Regions from separate parts of the Homo sapiens genome. Here regions 2 and 3 are each linked to region 1. Evidence: fine-mapped expression QTL. A gene starts in region 1. Each other region holds a variant in brackets. All regions are shown on one strand. Distances are between the middles of the regions.

What was found. PIP is the estimated chance that this variant, and not a neighbour inherited with it, causes the effect.
Region 2: its variant is fine-mapped to the expression of GAS2L1 in whole blood (INTERVAL, PIP above 0.99).
Region 3: its variant is fine-mapped to the expression of GAS2L1 in cerebellum (GTEx, PIP above 0.99). The same link has a PIP of 0.9 or more in cerebellar hemisphere.

What each region holds. Positions count from the first base shown.
Region 1 is chr22:29,304,227-29,309,226 of GRCh38, forward strand. It overlaps GAS2L1 (growth arrest specific 2 like 1), which reads left to right and starts at 2,424. Exons shown (of 6, transcript NM_001362985.3): 1 at 2,424-2,927; 2 at 3,861-4,512. The coding sequence starts at 3,880. RefSeq lists enhancers at 1,431-2,176, 1,781-1,830, 2,177-2,920 and silencers at 2,591-2,860, 2,881-2,930, 3,021-3,160.
Region 2 is chr22:29,376,920-29,383,375 of GRCh38, forward strand. All of the region lies in intron 1 of AP1B1 (adaptor related protein complex 1 subunit beta 1), which reads right to left. Among named protein-coding and RNA genes, the nearest start is that of AP1B1, 8.4 kb to the right of the region's middle. The variant CA/C (reference allele first, on the strand shown) is at 1,941.
Region 3 is chr22:29,344,832-29,349,831 of GRCh38, forward strand. It overlaps AP1B1 (adaptor related protein complex 1 subunit beta 1), which reads right to left. Exons shown (of 23, transcript NM_001127.4): 11 at 4,387-4,552. Among named protein-coding and RNA genes, the nearest start is that of SNORD125, 14 kb to the left of the region's middle. The variant T/C (reference allele first, on the strand shown) is at 2,021.

The sequences.
Region 1 (5,000 bases):
TGGTGCCACTGAGGCTCAGGGAGCTTCACCATCCCACCCAATGACCAATGACAGAGCCTGGGTTCCGTCCAACTTCACCCATGTCCAAAACCCCAAAATGCAGCAAGGTAGGTATAAGCAGGAGTCAAATTCCTGCACAGCTGCTGGCTACACATATCCCATGCCTTCTCTGGGCCTCAGTTTCCCCAAATTGTAAAATGAGAACACCTAAGAGTATCATAGCTCATCGGGGTATTTTGAAGATGAAACTGTTAAATGTCCACACCCTGATTCACCCCCACCCCAAACCTGCAACCCTCCTCCACCTCCAGCAGCCCTTCCCTCCCCAGGTGTTAGCACCTCCGCCCTCCCAGTGCTCAGCCCTGGGAGTTGTCCTGGATTCCGTCCTCACACTCAACCAATCCACCAGCACATCAGCTCTCCCCTCACAATATGGCCAGAATCCAGCGCCCTCTCACCACCTGGTTTCCTCTGAGGCTCCAGCTCCTGCCCTGGCCCACCACAGCAGCCCCAGGGAATGTTTTTTTTTTTTTGAGACGGAGTCTCGCTCTGTCGCCCAGGCTGGAGTGCAGTGGCACGATCTGGGCTCACTGCAAGCTCCGCCTCCCAGGTTCACACCATTCTCCTTCTCCTGCCTCAGCCTGCCAAGTAGCTGGGACTACAGGTGCCCGCCACCACGCCTGGCTAATTTTTTTGTATTTTTTTAGTAGAGACAGGGTTTCACCATGTTAGCCAGGATGGTCTCGATTTCCCGATCTCGTGATCCGCACGCCTCGGCCTCTCAAAGTGCTGGGATTACAGGCGTGAGCCGCCGCGCCCGGCCGGGAATGTTAAGACCTAAGCCAACCACCCCTGCTCTAAATCACTGCATGGCTCCCATGTCCCTCAAAAGAGACACGGCCCCCAAGGCCCTGCTTAACCGGCCCTGGGGTCTCTCTAATCTCTCTACCTCCTCCCTCACCCACCTCCCTGCACTCCAGCCTCAGCCACCTCCCCAGTCTTCTTGAGCACGCCGGACACATGCCCACCATGGGGCCTTTGCACTGGCCGTTCCCTCTCCCTCTCCAGATATCCCCGACCTTCCTCCCTCACTTCCTTTCCTGATGAGGGATTTTAAATTGCAGCCCCCTCACACCCACACCCTCACCCGGCTCCATCCCTGTCTTCTCTGCACCTCATCCCTGTCTCTGCCCTGGGGCTGCCTCCCTGCCAGACTTGGACAACAGGCCCTGAGAGCTGGCTCTGCTTGGTTCCCTGCTGTTTTGCTGTTGATTTCCAGTGCCCAAAGAGACCCAGCACACAGTAGGTGCCACGCAGGTGTCAGCCTTGAGGATTGCTAGTTACTGCCTTCCTCACTGGAGGAAGTGCCATGGGGGGCGCTGAGGTGAGAAAACGCCTTTGAAAAGGTCACACAGGCCAGGCAAGTGGCTCACACCTGTAATCCCAGCCCTTTGGGAGGTGGAGGCGGGCAGATCACCTTAGGTCAGGAGTTCGAGACCAACCTGGCCAACATGGTGAACTTGTCTCTACTAAAAATACAAAAAGCCGGGCGTGGTGGCAGGTATCAGTAATCCCAGCTACTCGGGAGGCTGAGGCAGGAGAATCGCTTGAACCCCGGAGGTAGAGGTTGCAATGAGCCCAGATCCAGCCACTGTACTCCAGCCTGAGCGACAGAGCGAGACAAAAAAAAAAAAAAAAAAAAAAAGGAAGAAAATAAAAAAGAAAAGGTCACAAGGACTCTCTGGGATGCCTGTGAATGCCTGGCACCAAGAGGCCTGGCTCACAGGTGCTCAACCAATGCTGCTGATCCGTGGATGAGGGCGTCCCCATAATCGTCATGTTCAAATCCTGGCTCCACCAGCTGCTCTCCTGACTGTGCCCCAGTTGGGCATGAGTGTCCTTCACAGAGGTGACACACCAGTTCATTCAGGTCAAGGGCGCAGAGCAGTCCTGGCAGCACACAGTAGGAGATTTATTGGAGCTCTGAGCCTGGCTGTGGTTGGCGGCTTCCCTGCAGGCCTGCCCCACCCGTGTAGCATGGCTGCCGCCCAGACCCGCCCGACGTCCCGCCCAGCCCAGCCGGCAGCAGCAGGGGGCAGGATTTCCCGCTGATCCCGGCGGTCCGTCCTCTGCAGTTTAAAAAGAGCCCAGCGGGGCTTAACCCTCCCGCGTCCGGCCGGCCTCCGATGCCCCCCGTCCCCTGTTCTGTGCGGAACTCCGGCTTTGGCCATCTGCCTACTTCTCTGAGCTTCAGTATCCTCATCTGTAAAACCGGTTCCCCTCATTTCAGGGTCAAAAATGAGCATTCAGTGAGCACAAGGAGCCCTCAGTCGCCAGGGGCATCCTCCCCCTCCCCGCGGCGGTGCCGTTTATCTGGCCAGGGGAGGTCCACCCGGGAGGAGGTGACTTTGCAGCCTCCAGCCGCTATCGCTTCCTGCCTTCATCTTGGGAACAGGCCGTGCTGTGCGCCAGCCCGGGGAGCCCACCGTCTGGGGAGGGGGGCGATTAAAAGGTCCCAACCTCCTCCCCAGGAGACCAAAGAGGTTGGACGGGGCCCCGGGTACTAGGCTGGGTGGGGGTTGGGCGCCTGGGCCGGTCGCAGTTGTCTGGGGGCCCTGGGGCTCTCTGCGTCGAGAGCGCTCGAAGACCCGGGATTCCTGGCCCGATCGCGGGCGGGGGGAGACCCCAGCTCCACCCCAGCTCCCGCCGGCTCGGGGAAGGGGCGGCCCCTTTAAGAGCGCGCGGCCCCGCCCGCCCCCTCCGGGCAGGATCCGAATTCCAGGGAGGCGGGGCGGAGACGGCGGCGAGGAGGAGGCCGCGGCGCGGGACGCATAGAGCTGCGGCTCGGGCGGCGCCTCCCTGCGGCGGCCCGGCCCGGCTCCGGCCCCCGCTGGGGCAATGCTCCCCGGGGCCGCGGGATGAGCCAGGTGAGCGCGGAGACCCCCAGCACTCCCTGCCTGGTGCGCATGGACGGGGGTGGGGAGGCGGGGCGGGAAGCGGCGTCCTCGGCCTCTGTTCCCCGGGGCTGTGTGACCTTGGGCGGCCCCGCACCCTCTCTGGGCCCAGAGCCCCAGCACCGGCAGGGCCTGCGGAGGCCGCTCTGAGTCCTGGCCCCGCAGGCACCGGCCTGGAGCGCTGGGGAGGCTTCTTGGAGGAGGCGGGGCCTGGCCCTGGCCCCGGATCGCCGAGACCGGCCACGCTGCGCCGCCTGGACGCCGGGCTCCTCCACCCACAGCTCTGCGACCTTCACGAGCTCGACCCTTTCTGCGCCTCAGTTTCCTCATCTATAAAATGGAGATAATGCCTCCGCGCGCTGAGCCCGAGCGCGGTCGTGCTGTTACACTATTGCTGCTGCTATGTCGTTAATGACGGCACAGCCCTTATGGAAGGGGGGCCAAGGAAGGCACGGGGACCTTCCCGCAGGACATGGGGTGGGCACCAGCCCTAAGCCATGCACATAACCCACTCTGAGGTCAGGACCTGGGTTCCTTTCGTGTCCACTGGGGGCCTTAGCCGTTGTCTTCACTTCTCTAGGTCCCAGCCCTTCACAATGGGCGCGCCTCCCTGCCTGAGAGGGAGGCCCCAGCCAAGCCCCAGTTTCCACCGCAAAAAGCCACACAGCAAACACTTAATGGACCCTAAATTTATAAAAATTATCCCATAGAGTCCTATGAGGCAGGGAATGTTACTGTACCCATTTCGCAGATGAGGAAACTTGGGGCACCGACATTTCCCAGAGCCAACATGTAAACCAGGCATTTGGCCTGAGTGACAGACTGGTGCAGGTGGCCAGCAGCTTAATTTGTACTGAGCGCTTACTGGGTCCCCACAGCGATCCTGAACTGTGTTCCTGCCCACAGTGACTCGGCCGGTCCGGGCATGGCAGACCCAGTGGCGGGCATCGCGGGCTCGGCGGCCAAGAGCGTGCGGCCATTTCGCTCCAGTGAGGCCTACGTGGAGGCCATGAAGGAGGACCTGGCCGAGTGGCTCAATGCCTTGTACGGCCTGGGTCTCCCGGGTGGTGGCGATGGCTTCCTGACAGGGCTGGCCACGGGCACGACCCTGTGCCAACATGCCAACGCCGTGACCGAGGCTGCCCGTGCATTGGCAGCCGCCCGCCCGGCCCGAGGTGTGGCCTTCCAGGCGCACAGTGTAGTGCCTGGCTCCTTCATGGCGCGCGACAACGTGGCCACCTTCATCGGCTGGTGCCGCGTGGAGCTGGGTGTGCCGGAGGTGCTCATGTTTGAGACTGAGGACCTGGTGCTGCGCAAGAACGAGAAGAGCGTGGTGCTGTGCCTGCTGGAGGTGGCGCGGCGTGGGGCACGCCTGGGCCTGCTGGCCCCACGCCTCGTGCAGTTTGAGCAGGAGATTGAGCGGGAGCTGCGTGCTGCACCCCCAGCCCCCAACGCCCCTGCCGCTGGGGAGGACACCACTGAAACCGCCCCCGCACCAGGGACTCCTGCCCGCGGCCCCCGCATGACACCCAGCGACCTGCGCAACCTCGACGAGCTGGTGAGTCCCCCAGCACCAGGTGCCAGGGACCCGACAGCACAGCCAGTGCCTGCAATCTGTCCCTGAACCTCCCAGGGTCCACCCTGCTATCTGCAGAACAGTCTGCCCCACAAAAAGAGTGCACATGTTGAGCACCAAACCGAGGAATGTATACCTGACCCCAAGGAAATGGGTAGCCCACAGAGAGGGAGGTGCCGGGGAGATGACGCAGCCCAGCCGGGCCTGGGACAGGATGCGGGCTCCTGGCACGATCTTCCCTCACTTTGTGTGCTAACTGTGCCTCAACTGAGCTTGTGCATTCCTTCTTCTGGGGGGCCGCATGATCGGGGCGCCTCCTCTGTGCCCTCCCTGCAGTCAGTCTTAGGCAGATGTACCCACAACCTCATGGAGGCTCGAGGTTGAGCGGGTGCTGTGATGCTCGGTTGAGACGAGGCATGGAAAAACCTGGGCAAGGTGCCTGGCACACAGTAGGTGCCCCAGGGGGCTCT
Region 2 (6,456 bases), 73 kb after region 1:
GGCATGCTGGCTCATGCCCACAATCCAGCACTTTGGGAGGCCGAGGTGGGAGGATCACTTGAGGTCAGGAGATTGGGACCAGCCTGGCCAACATGGTGAAACCCTGTCTCTACTGAAAATACAAAAATTAGCTGGGTGTAGTGGCAGGTGCCTGTAATCCCAGCTACTCGGGAGGCTGAGGTGGAAGAATCGCTTGAACCTGGGAGGCGGGGGTTGCAGTAAGCCGAGACCGTGCCACTGCACTCCAGCCTGGGTGACAGAGTGAGACCCTGTCTCAAAAAAAAAAAAAAAAAAAAAAAAAGGAAAAAGGTCCTTATAGGTAAATACTTAAGTTCACTTTACAGACAGGGAAACAGGTAAGGCCAGCTGGAAGACTAAAAGGTGAGTCAGCAGTAGAAAAACCAGATTTCAGACTTTCTCTCTGAGAAAACGTGGTTACCAAATTCAGACAGGCTCTTCCAAGTCAGTTCAATCACTATGAGAAAATAATCTGTGTTCTTTAGGCTCAGCATGAAATTTGGAACAAAGGTGGCAGTGGTAGTAGTAATGGTAAATGGATGTGCACCATGTGACAGACACTATGTAAAGAGCTTTAAAGTTAGTCCTCGTGGAAAGGCGTGGTGGTTCACATCTATAATCCCAGCACTTTGGGAGGCTGAGGCTGGCAGATCATGAGGTCAGGGGTTTGAGACCAGCCTGGTCAACATAGTGAAACCTGTCTCTACTAAACATACAAAAAAATTAGCCAGGCATGGTGGCGGGCGCCTGTAATCACAGCTACTCTGGAGGATGAGGCAAGGAGAATCGCTTGAACCTGGGAGGCGGAGGTTGCAGTTAGCCAAGATCGTGCCACTGTACTCCAGCCTGGGTGACAGTGCGAGACTCTGTCTCAAAAAAAAAAAAAAAAAGTTAGTCTTCACGATAATCCATGAAGGTTTTAATATTATCACAAGTTTACAGATGAGGAAACTGAAGTACCAGGGAGGTCAAGGCATTTGTTTGGAGTTACACAGCTAGAAAATGGCAGTGCCGGCACTCTCCACTGCTGCCCCCTAATAAGGTCACACATGTCCCACTCTGTCCAGCAAGGCAACTAACTGCTCCTCTCTGAATGAAGCCCTGGCAGAAATATACATGCTCTAGGGTAAAGGGTATGTGAAATGGGTTGCCACACATCCCTGCAGAGTCCCTCAGATGTTGAATTACAGGTTATTTTAGGGCCAGCCCAGCCGGTTTGGACAACAGGGAACGTCAAGTTTGGTCATGTGCCTAGTGAAAGCCTATCTGGGTGCGCTTGCCAAGTTATGGGCCTCCTGGGATTTGGATGAAAACTGATTAGTCAAAATCAATCTCCTGGCCGGGCACGGTGACCCACACCTGTAATCCTAGCACTGTGTGAGGCTGAGGCAGACAGATCTCTTGAGCGCAGGAGTTCAAGACCAGCCTGGGCAACATGGCGAAACCCCATCTCTACAAAAATACAATTAGCCAGGTGTGGTGGCATACATCTGTAGTATCAGCTACTCAGGAGCCTGAGGTGGGAAGATTGCTTGAGCCTGGGAGGTTGACGCTGCAGTGAGCTGTGAATGTGACACTGCACTCCAGCCTGGGCGAGAGAAAGAAACTCCGTATCAAAAAAAAAAAAAAAAAAAAAAAAAGGCCGGGCGCAGTGGCTCACGCCTGTAATCCCAGCACTTTGGGAGGCCGAGGCGGGCGGATCATGAGGTCAGGAAATCGAGACCATCCTGGCTAACACGGTGAAACCCCATCTCTACTAAAAATACAAAAAATTAGCTGGGCCTGGTGGCGGGTGCCTGTAGTCCCAGCTACTCGGGAGGCTGAGGCAGGAGAATGGTGTGAACTCAGGAGGCGGAGCTTGCAGTGAGCTGAGATCGTGTCACTGCACTCCAGCCTGGGCAACAGAGCAAGACTCCGTCCCA[CA/C]AAAAAAAAAAAAAAAAAAAGTCAGTTTCCTGAGGCCCACTAGCAATTAAAGACTTCAGAATGAAAAGGAACTAAAGGCAGACAAATGTCACATGCAAACGTTCTTATATTGGCTTTGAGTCTCTAGAACTCCATTCTAGAATCAGGTACCAGTTCTGAACTGATCTATAAGCCGTAATGTGCGGAAAGATCTGCTGTGAAGAAAAAAAAGTGATGGGCGCAGTGGCTCATGCCTGTAATCCCAGCACTTTAGGAGACCGAGGTGGGCAGATCACTTGAGGTGAGGAGTTCGAGACCAGCTTGGCCAACATGGCGAAACCTATCTCTACTAAAAATACAAAAATTAGCTGGACATGGTGGCTCGCACCTATAGTCCCAACTACTCAGGAGTCTCAGGCAGGAGAATTGCTTGAACCTGAAATCGCACCACTGCACTCTGGCCTGGGTGACAGAGCAAGACTCCATCTCAAAAAAAGAAAAAGTTCCTCTGGACTTGAAAATAAAGTAAGTAAGGCTTCTTCTGAACAATACTTAAATTAATCGAGATGAGGAGAAAGAGGCCAGAGACTACAGAACAACGCTCTTTGTGATCTCGGTTTTCCCATCTATGTAATGGGAACACTTTCTGAAGATCTGTCAAATTAACAGTGTAGAGCACCATCCGCTCCATGCCTGGAACTGTGCCCCACACGGAAGCATGCACACAGTAAACAAAGGACAGTCTTTTCTCACTGAGCTCTTACAGATTTAGAGGCCAGGTAAAGGACTGCAGGGGAACGGCAGAGTGATCATGCCTCCAGAGGAGGAGGGTTCTGAGATAGGTGGAGCAGCAAGGGAAGTTCTCTTAGATGAAGAGGGGCTTGGCTGACGCAAAAAGACAGGTCAGATTTAGAGAGGCAAGAGTGGAGGTGGCAAAGAGATGCACCACGAAATTGCCAATGTGACAACGGAGGGAACTGACAACAATTAAATCAACACTAGCTGGGGAACGGCTTCTTGCTAAGTGATTTACAACCCTTCTCATTTAATTCTCAGGGTAATTCAGTTAAAAAACAAGGAATTAGAGACACTGAGAGATGAGTGATTTACCTAAGGCCAAAACAAGAAGTCTGTGAGCCCCGCTGCCTGGCTGAAGGAAAGGACCTGGAAGGGAAAGGAGCAGACGAGGCTAGGGAAGGAAGAATGAGATTCAGAAATGGTTCTGGATGCCAGGTGTGTTGGGTCCTGCCAGGAGAAGACACAATGGTCATGTCAAATGACAAGTCTCATGCTGATAAGCATTTGACACTACTGATCACTCCCTCCTTCCTGAAAACCTGTCTTCCCTCAAATGCTAGGATGCCATGCTCTCTGCCTGCCCTCCTACGCCACTGTCTGCGCCTTCTCAGTCTCCTTTGCTTGTTCCTCTCCTTCTCCTTCAACACTGTGTGCCCCAGGGCTCAGGCCTGGTACCTCTTCTCTTCCCCATCTATGCTATTTTGCCTCTTTGGTGGATCATCCGGTATCACAGCTTTACATACCATCCACATAGCCCAACCTCTCCCCAGAACCCCCGGGCACACATGTCCAAACTGTGTAACTGACATCTCCACATTACTGTGGAGATGACTAGCAGGCAGCTCAAACAATGGGATAAAAACTGACCTCCTGCTTCCTTCCTTTCCCCAACTGGCTCACCCTGCAGTCTACATCATCTAGTTCCTGCCAGCACCATCTTTAAGAGGGCCTCAGGCTAAAAACCTGAGTCACTCTTAACAACATACTCTCCTTTAAATCTATCGGCAAATCCTATTGGATTCCGACCTTCAAAATGAATCTAGAATCCATGAGCAGCTTCTCACTAGCTCCATCACTAACCCCAGCTCCAAGCCAGCATCACCTTCCATTTAGAGTGCTAACAAAGCTGCTCCCACACTGCTTTGCTGACACCCCATCTCAGCAACAGCCAGGATGATCCTCTTACAGTCCAAATCAGACAGTAGCACCCCTCTGCTCAACGTCTTCCAACGGTTCTCTGTCTTACTCATAGTAAAAGCCAAAGTCCCTACCATGGCCTCATAGCCCACAGGTCCTATAAGAGATGCATGCCCCTCCTCTCTCACGCATGCACCCTGCTGGCCATTACCCTTTGAACTCTTCTCCCCATCATTCCCTCAGCTCCAGCCGCACAGGCCTCTTTACTGATCCTCGAACACAACATGCATCCACCCCAGGGCCTTTGCCCGTGCTATTCACTTTGCTAGGAAGGCTCTTTCTCCAGACAGCCTCATGGCTCAGTCCCTCACCTCTTTAGGTCTTGGCTCAAATGTCATCTTCTCATTGAGGCCTTCTTTGACCATTTTATTTAAAATTGTATACCCCTCCCCCATAATCCCCACCACTTCCTAACCCTCTTTGCCCTTTTTCCCTTCAAAGTACTTATTACCTATTACCTACACACTATAAAATATACTTACGTTGTCTATTCTTTCTCCCCCTATAAATTCCCTAATGTAAATGGGGGTAAGGATTTTGTCCATTTTGTTCACTATCATATTCCTGACTCCTAGGCTGGTACCTGGCAAACAGGTGTTCAATAAGTAGCTGAATGACCAGTGCTCAACTCTCTTCTTGGGCAAATTTCATGTTTTGTAAACCAACCTCTGCTAGAGCAGCTTCTCCATGTTCCATTCACGGGGTTATCCAGGATCAGAGATACATCTGCTCTGATTGTCAAGCTATTCTAACTATACTGAAATTGAACATGCCAGACCCCTAGCACATTTACAGCCAATAAATGGAAGTTAAGTGAATAAATTATGAGAGAGAGAAGAAATGGCAAGGGTAGAAGATCAGGTGGCAACATCTCCAGTGGGAGAAACGTTCAGTGAGGCCAAGTCACTCTCACCTGCTCCCATAGGTATCAGCTCAGAGTGACAGAGCTGCAGAAGGTGGGGGGCTCTGGCACAGGATATAAGTACCAGGTCCTTGCCTCCAGGCCCACATGCCTTCTTTGTTCCTCTAACAGCCAACTCTTCACTATCTCTACCCTTGCTGATCCTTCTGCTTGGATTATCCTCTCCTAACTGCTCCAATTTATCCTTCAAATCTCAGCTTAGATGATCTCATTTCAAAGATAACTTCCCTTCAGCGTGATACCTCTGATGCTTAAAAAAAGAAACAAAAAAAAAATACCTTTCCTACATGTACTATCTTTTTTGTTGTTGTTGCTAGAGACAGATAGTCTTGCTCTGTCACCCAGGCTAGAGTGCAGGGGTGTGATCATAGCTCACTGCAGCATCAAACTACTGGGCTCAAGCAATTCTGCTTCAGCCTCCTGAGTAGCTGGGACTACAGGCGTGTGCCATGCCCAGCTAATCTTTTCAAGTTTTTTGTGGAGTCTCGCTAAATTATCCAGGCTGGTCTTGAACTCCTGGCCTCAAATGATCCTCCCACCTCAGCCTCCCAAGTAGCTGGGATTACAGGCATGAGCCACGGCACCTGGCCATGCATGTACAACCTTAAGAAGGTATTTCTCTGTCCACATCCTTCAGTGTTCTTATTCATACATTTCCTGAGCATCTTTCGTGTACCAGAAACACTTCTACATGTTGGGAATGCAGGAGTGAAAGAAACAGACAAAAATCCTTCCCTACATGGAGTTTATGTCCTAATGGGGGAAAGAGACCGTAAGCAAGATAAGTGAGTAAAATATATAACATCTTAGATAGTGATAAACACAATGGAGGCAAAAAAGAGGAGGGAAGGAGGATAGGGAGGGGAGAGGGGAGGAAGGGAAGTTAAAATTTAACTAGGGTGGCCATAGAAGGCCTCCTTGAGAAGGTGACAGGTGACACTGTCTGCGAAAGAGCCTGCCAAGCAAAAGAGATCGCCAGTGCAAAGGTGAGTATGTGCCTGGCATGTCTGAGGAACAGAAGGGAAGTGAATGTGGCTGAGTGAGCAATGAGGAAAACAGTGGGTCAGGAAGTCACAGGAGAATGCAGGGGGCCTTATGATCAAGCGTGAGGTCTCTGGCTTTTACTGAGTGAGCTGGAGCCACTGGAGGGTTTTGAGCAGAGGAGTCCTGACATCTGACCTATATTTTAATAAGTTCTGGCTGCTATGCCTTTTGTTTCCCTTGTGGCTTATTGGTTTTTCTAATCATTGCATTTTTTTCTCTACTTCTTTGTCTCTCTCTCCCATTAAAATGAAGTAAGCAACTAGAGGGCTTATCTGAAGCCTGAAGCCATATCTGGCCTGTTGACCTATCAGCATAGGCCAGCACCAGGCATTAGCAGGCCTCGATAAATACTGAATGAATACTGGACTTAGAAAGTCTCTGTCCTCAGTGTCCCAGCAGCCAGCCACCCAATACTCGGAGATCGGGCAATGAAGACCACCACAGCAGCAGACCCAAGGCTGGCTCTACTGAAATTGTGTTATTCTGCTCCCAATAGGCTTAAGATCCTAAATGTAAGGAGGGTGTGGTAAAAAGTATCTACCACCCAAGTCTATTCCTCTATGGAACTCAGCTAC
Region 3 (5,000 bases), 41 kb after region 1:
CTGCTGTCCATGGCTAGAGAGGCCTAGGAGCCAAGGATGAGAAGATTCAACAAGACAATATAAAATGAGTTCCATAATTGTCAAGCCCGGTGCAGTGGTGCAGGCCCATAGTCCTAGCTATTCAGAATCCTTTGAGCCCAGGAGTTCAAGGCTAGCCTGGGCAAAACATAGTGAGATTTCGCCACTAAAACAAACAAACAAAAAACTCCAAATCGTCAAGCACTAAACAAGTATTCTTTTTTTTTGAGACAAGGTCTCGCTCTGTTGCCCAGGCTGGAGTGCAGTGGTGTGATCTTGGCTCACTGCAGCCTCAACTTCCCAGGCTCAAGCAATCCTCCCACCTAGGCCTCCCAAGTAGCTGGGACTACAGGTATGTGCCACCACACCCAGTTCATTTTTTTTTTTTTATAGAGATGAGGTCTCACTATGTTGCCCAGGTTGGTCTCGAACTCCTGGACTCAAAAGATCCTCCTGCCTCGGCCTCCCAAAGTGCTGGGTTACAGGCATGAGCTGCTGCACCCAGTTAACAAGTTTTGTTTTGTTTTTTTTCTTTTTTCTGAGATGGAGTCTCGGTCTGTTGCCCAGGCTGGAGTGCAGTGGTGTGATCTTGACTCACTGCAGCCTCAACTTCCCAGGCTCAAGCAATCCTCCCACCTAGGCCTCCCAAGTAGCTGGGACTACAGGGGTGTGCCACCACACCCAGCTAATTTTTTTTTTTTATAGAGATGAGGTCTCACTATGTTGCCCAGGTTGGTCTCGAACTCCTGGACTCAAAAGATCCTCCTGCCTCGGCCTCCCAAAGTGCTGGGGTTACAGGCGTGAGCCGCTGCACCCAGTTAACAAGTTTTGTTTTGTTTTTTTTCTTTTTTCTGAGATGGAGTCTTGGTCTGTTGCCCAGGCTGGAGTGCAGTTGTGCGATCTCGGCTTACCGCAACCTCCGCCTCCCGTGTTCAAGCGATTCTCCTGCCTCAGCCTCCTGAGTGGCTGGGATTACAGACGCACACCACCATGCCTGGCTAATTTTTGTATTTTTAGTAGAGACGGGGTTTCATTATGTTGGTCAGGCTGGTCTCAAACTCCTGCCTCAAGTGATCTGCCTGCCTTGGCCTCCCAAAATGCTAGGATTACAGGTGTAAGCCACTGTGCCTGGCCCTAACAAGTATTCTTAAAAGAGCTTTGAACTGTGTTGTGAACCAAAGATGCAAAGTGAACAGGCTACTGAATTACATCACACCCCCACTTTACAAACAAGGCCCAGCAGTCTTTGCAATAACTGCACTAGAGACAAGGAAATGGGTTTGGTGAGTTCAAGTAACTGTGCTCCAGGCCACACAACAGGGAGGAGGAGCTTGGATCTCAAACTTCAGAGCTCTGTTTCTGTTCACACCACCAGACTCTTGGCTTACCTCTCCCTGTCCAGCTTCTCTCATTCTAGCTTTTTAGCAGGCTTAGCTGCAAAAGACTGACCCTATTATAGGGGCAGAAGCACACCCCTACAGCAGCGGTTCCCAGCCTTTGTGGCACCAGGGACCAGTTTTGTGGAAGACAATTTTTCCACAGATAGGGGATGCGGGTTGGGGGATGGTTTCAGGATGAAACTGCTCCACCTCAGATCAGGCATTAGGTTCTCATAAGGAACACACAACCTAGATCCCTCTCATGTGCAGTTCATAATAGAGTTTGCGCTCCTATGAGAATCTAATGCCGCCGCTGATCTGACAGGAGGCGGAGCTGAGGCAGTAATGCTTGCTTGCCCGCCGCTCACCTCCCGCTGTGCAGCCCAGTTCCTTACAGGCCATGGTGGCCCGGGGGTTGGGGATCCCTGCACTACAGGACATCCTTGCAGTGATCCCAGGCAGGACTTGACTGCAGGAGCAGAACCCAGCATAGGCAAGCTTTGCTTCTGAGACAGAGGGAAGAGGCTGGTATTGCAAGCAAAGGCAGTCTGGAGGCAGGTGGCAGTGGGGGGGGGTGACGGTGGGAATTAGTACTGTGATTCTGAGATGGACATCTGTTGTTT[T/C]TGCTCACCCAGCATCTATTCTGTCTTCTGGGAACAGAAACACTGGCTTTCCTTCAGAGCCTCGCCCTTCTTTCTGTCCCTTTCAGTCCACACAAACTGGGATCGGTGCCTGAGAGACCTCGCCAACCAGAGTCACAGTGCCTGGCTCAGGATAATGCAAATAGGTCCTGGGACTTTTGCTGGAACTACTGAGGGGAGGGGAAAAACTCTTCCCATGGGAGTTATTGTGCCATAAGGACATAGCCTGGAACTGTTGATTCCTTACAGCTCCCACTGTTGGGAGCCTATCCATGGCAGAAGATAGCTCAATGCCACCATCCAAGCACCCTCAGCCAGGAGTCCCAGAAGAGAGCATGCTACCCACACTTGCCAGCTACCGGAACCAGTTGGTCCCCTTTTTGGCCTGGACTAGTTTGCTTTTGAAACCAATTTGGCCCAAACCAACACTACCATGAACGAGTGTTTATTATGGGCTGGCCATGTGTCAAGGACATTACACAAAGCACCCTAATTTAACTTTCGTAGCAAGAGGATGAGGGAAGATCTAATGATTCTCATTTTACAAATGAAGAAACTGAGGCTCAGAGAGTTAAAGGGATAAGCATAAAGTTACTGAGCCAGGAAGGGGCAGAGGAGGGGTATGGACTCTGGGATCTCTCATTCTAAGTCCCACACTTGGACCCACGGGATTACACAACCCCAGTTGGGCAGCAAAAATTTCTGTGCTCACCAACAGACTAACAGACAGTTCCCAGTTAACTGAGAAAAGGGAATACAAATGACAAGGCAGACATTCAGCCTCATTCATAACAGAAATGCAAACAGAACTACAGTGAGGTACCCCTGTTAGCTACTGGACTGGCAAAAACAAAGCAGAAGTAAGGAGAGGGCAATCCCAGCATCTGAGATAGGAGTCTAAACCAGCACAACCTCCACAACAGGAATCTGGCAACAGCTACCCAAATCTCAAACTCACATGCTCTTTTCTCTAAGCATCCTGCTCCTATGAATGTATCCTCCAGCTATGCCTGCAGATGTGCATTACACAGGTTATTCTCGGCAGTACTGTTTCAATGAGCACAAGACTGGACACCTAAATACCCACCAGGAGAGGATGGTTAAATAAAGCATAAATGAATGAGAGCATGGTCTTTGCAGGTGTTGGTAACAGAAAAAGGCAAGGTGCTAAACAATTTGAATTTACAGAGTATGCTACAGCAGTGTTTAAAAATAAATGAGAGGGCAGTGTAGATACAGTTGATTCTCACTACTTGAGCAATCCATGTTTGTGAATCTGCCTACTTGCTAAAATTTACTTGTAGCCCCCAAATCAAGACTCATGGTGCCTTTGCAGTCATTTGCAAATACGTGCAGAACCGTGAAAGCTTTCAGTTGCCTGACACACACATTCACAGCTGAGGTCAAATAAGGCAACACTCATGTTTCAGCTCTCATCCTGTAAACAAGCATCCTTTCCACCACCTATTTAGTGCCATGTTTTTCACATTTTTGAGCTTTTTGTTGATTTCCTTGTTTAAAATGCTCCCTAGCACTGAAGTGCTTGCCTAGTGTCCCCAAGCACAGAAGGCTGTGATGTGCCTCAGAGAAAACATGTCCTTGATAAGCTTCGCTAAGGCATGAATTACAGTATCCATGGCCATGAGTTCAATGTCAATGAATTGACAATATATATTAACTAAGGTGTTTTTAAACAGAAACACACATTTAAAAAGGTTATTAACTGATCAATTGACAAAAACGTTGGGTCTAGATGCTCACAGAAACTAAACTCTATATTTCTCCTAGGAGCTATGGTTCAGTACTTGCTAATTCAGTGTCTGCCATGACTATGGAACAGAAGCACCATGAAAAATAAGAATTGGTTGCATATGTGTGTGTATGTGTGTATAGGAAGGATGGGTGCATGTGTGTGTATCTGTGGGTCTACTGGTGTATTCCTAAATGATCTCCTGAACTTTCCTAAGAAATCAAAAAAGTGATGACTTCTGGGAGGAGAATTTGTGTCCTACAAAGTGATGAGAGGGAAACTTTTCACTATATATGCTTTTGTATCAATTTTAAACCAAGTCAATATATTTCCTATTAAAATATGACTATGGAATTAAAACAAAATGAAGAACTTTTGCCTGCCTTCCACGCACACCACCACAGACTCTCACGTGTCCCCGACTCGACTGTACTGCAGTGAGGAGGAAAAGGGGCGGTGTCCATTACGCGCACATCACTCATCTGTCTGTCAGGGCTGTTTACGAGGTAATAGGAAGGGAGGGTTTCATGGCAGTATGGGCCACAGTGGGGCTGAGCTGCCAGTCATGACTCACACCCTGGCCAGCTCGCTGGCTCACCTGTGTGCTCTCGTCATGGAAGCCCTCGAGGAAGCTCTCCAGCAGCTCATCTGCGTTGTCGATCCGTTCCGCGTACTCGCCCACAATCCAGATCATGGCAGCCCGGGCCTCAGGCTCATCCAGGGAGTCCAGATTCTCACACAGTGTGGCAATCACACTCTCATACCTGGGAGACCAGGGCACAGTTGGTATGGGAGCCCTCAAGGAGAACGGGAAACCCAGGGAAGCCAGACAGGGGCCAGGAGGGAAGGGGACCTGCCTCCTAAGACCCCAAGGTGGCAGGTAAAGGGGATCTGAGTTTTGTTTTTTTTTTTGAGATGGAGTTTCACTCTGTTGCCCAGGCTGGTGTGCAGTGGTGTGATCTCACCTCACTGCAACCTCCACCTCCCTGGTTCAAGCAATGCCCCTGCCTCAGCCTCCCAAGTAGCTGGGATTACAGGGACATGCCACCACATCCAGCTAATTTTTTTGTATTTTTAGTAGAAACATGGTTTCACTATGTTGGCTAGACTAGTCTTGAACTCCTGATCTCAGGCAATCCACCCGCCTCGGCCTCCCAAAGTGCTGGGATTACAGGCAAGAGCCACCACACCTGGCCTGGGGATCTGAGTTTC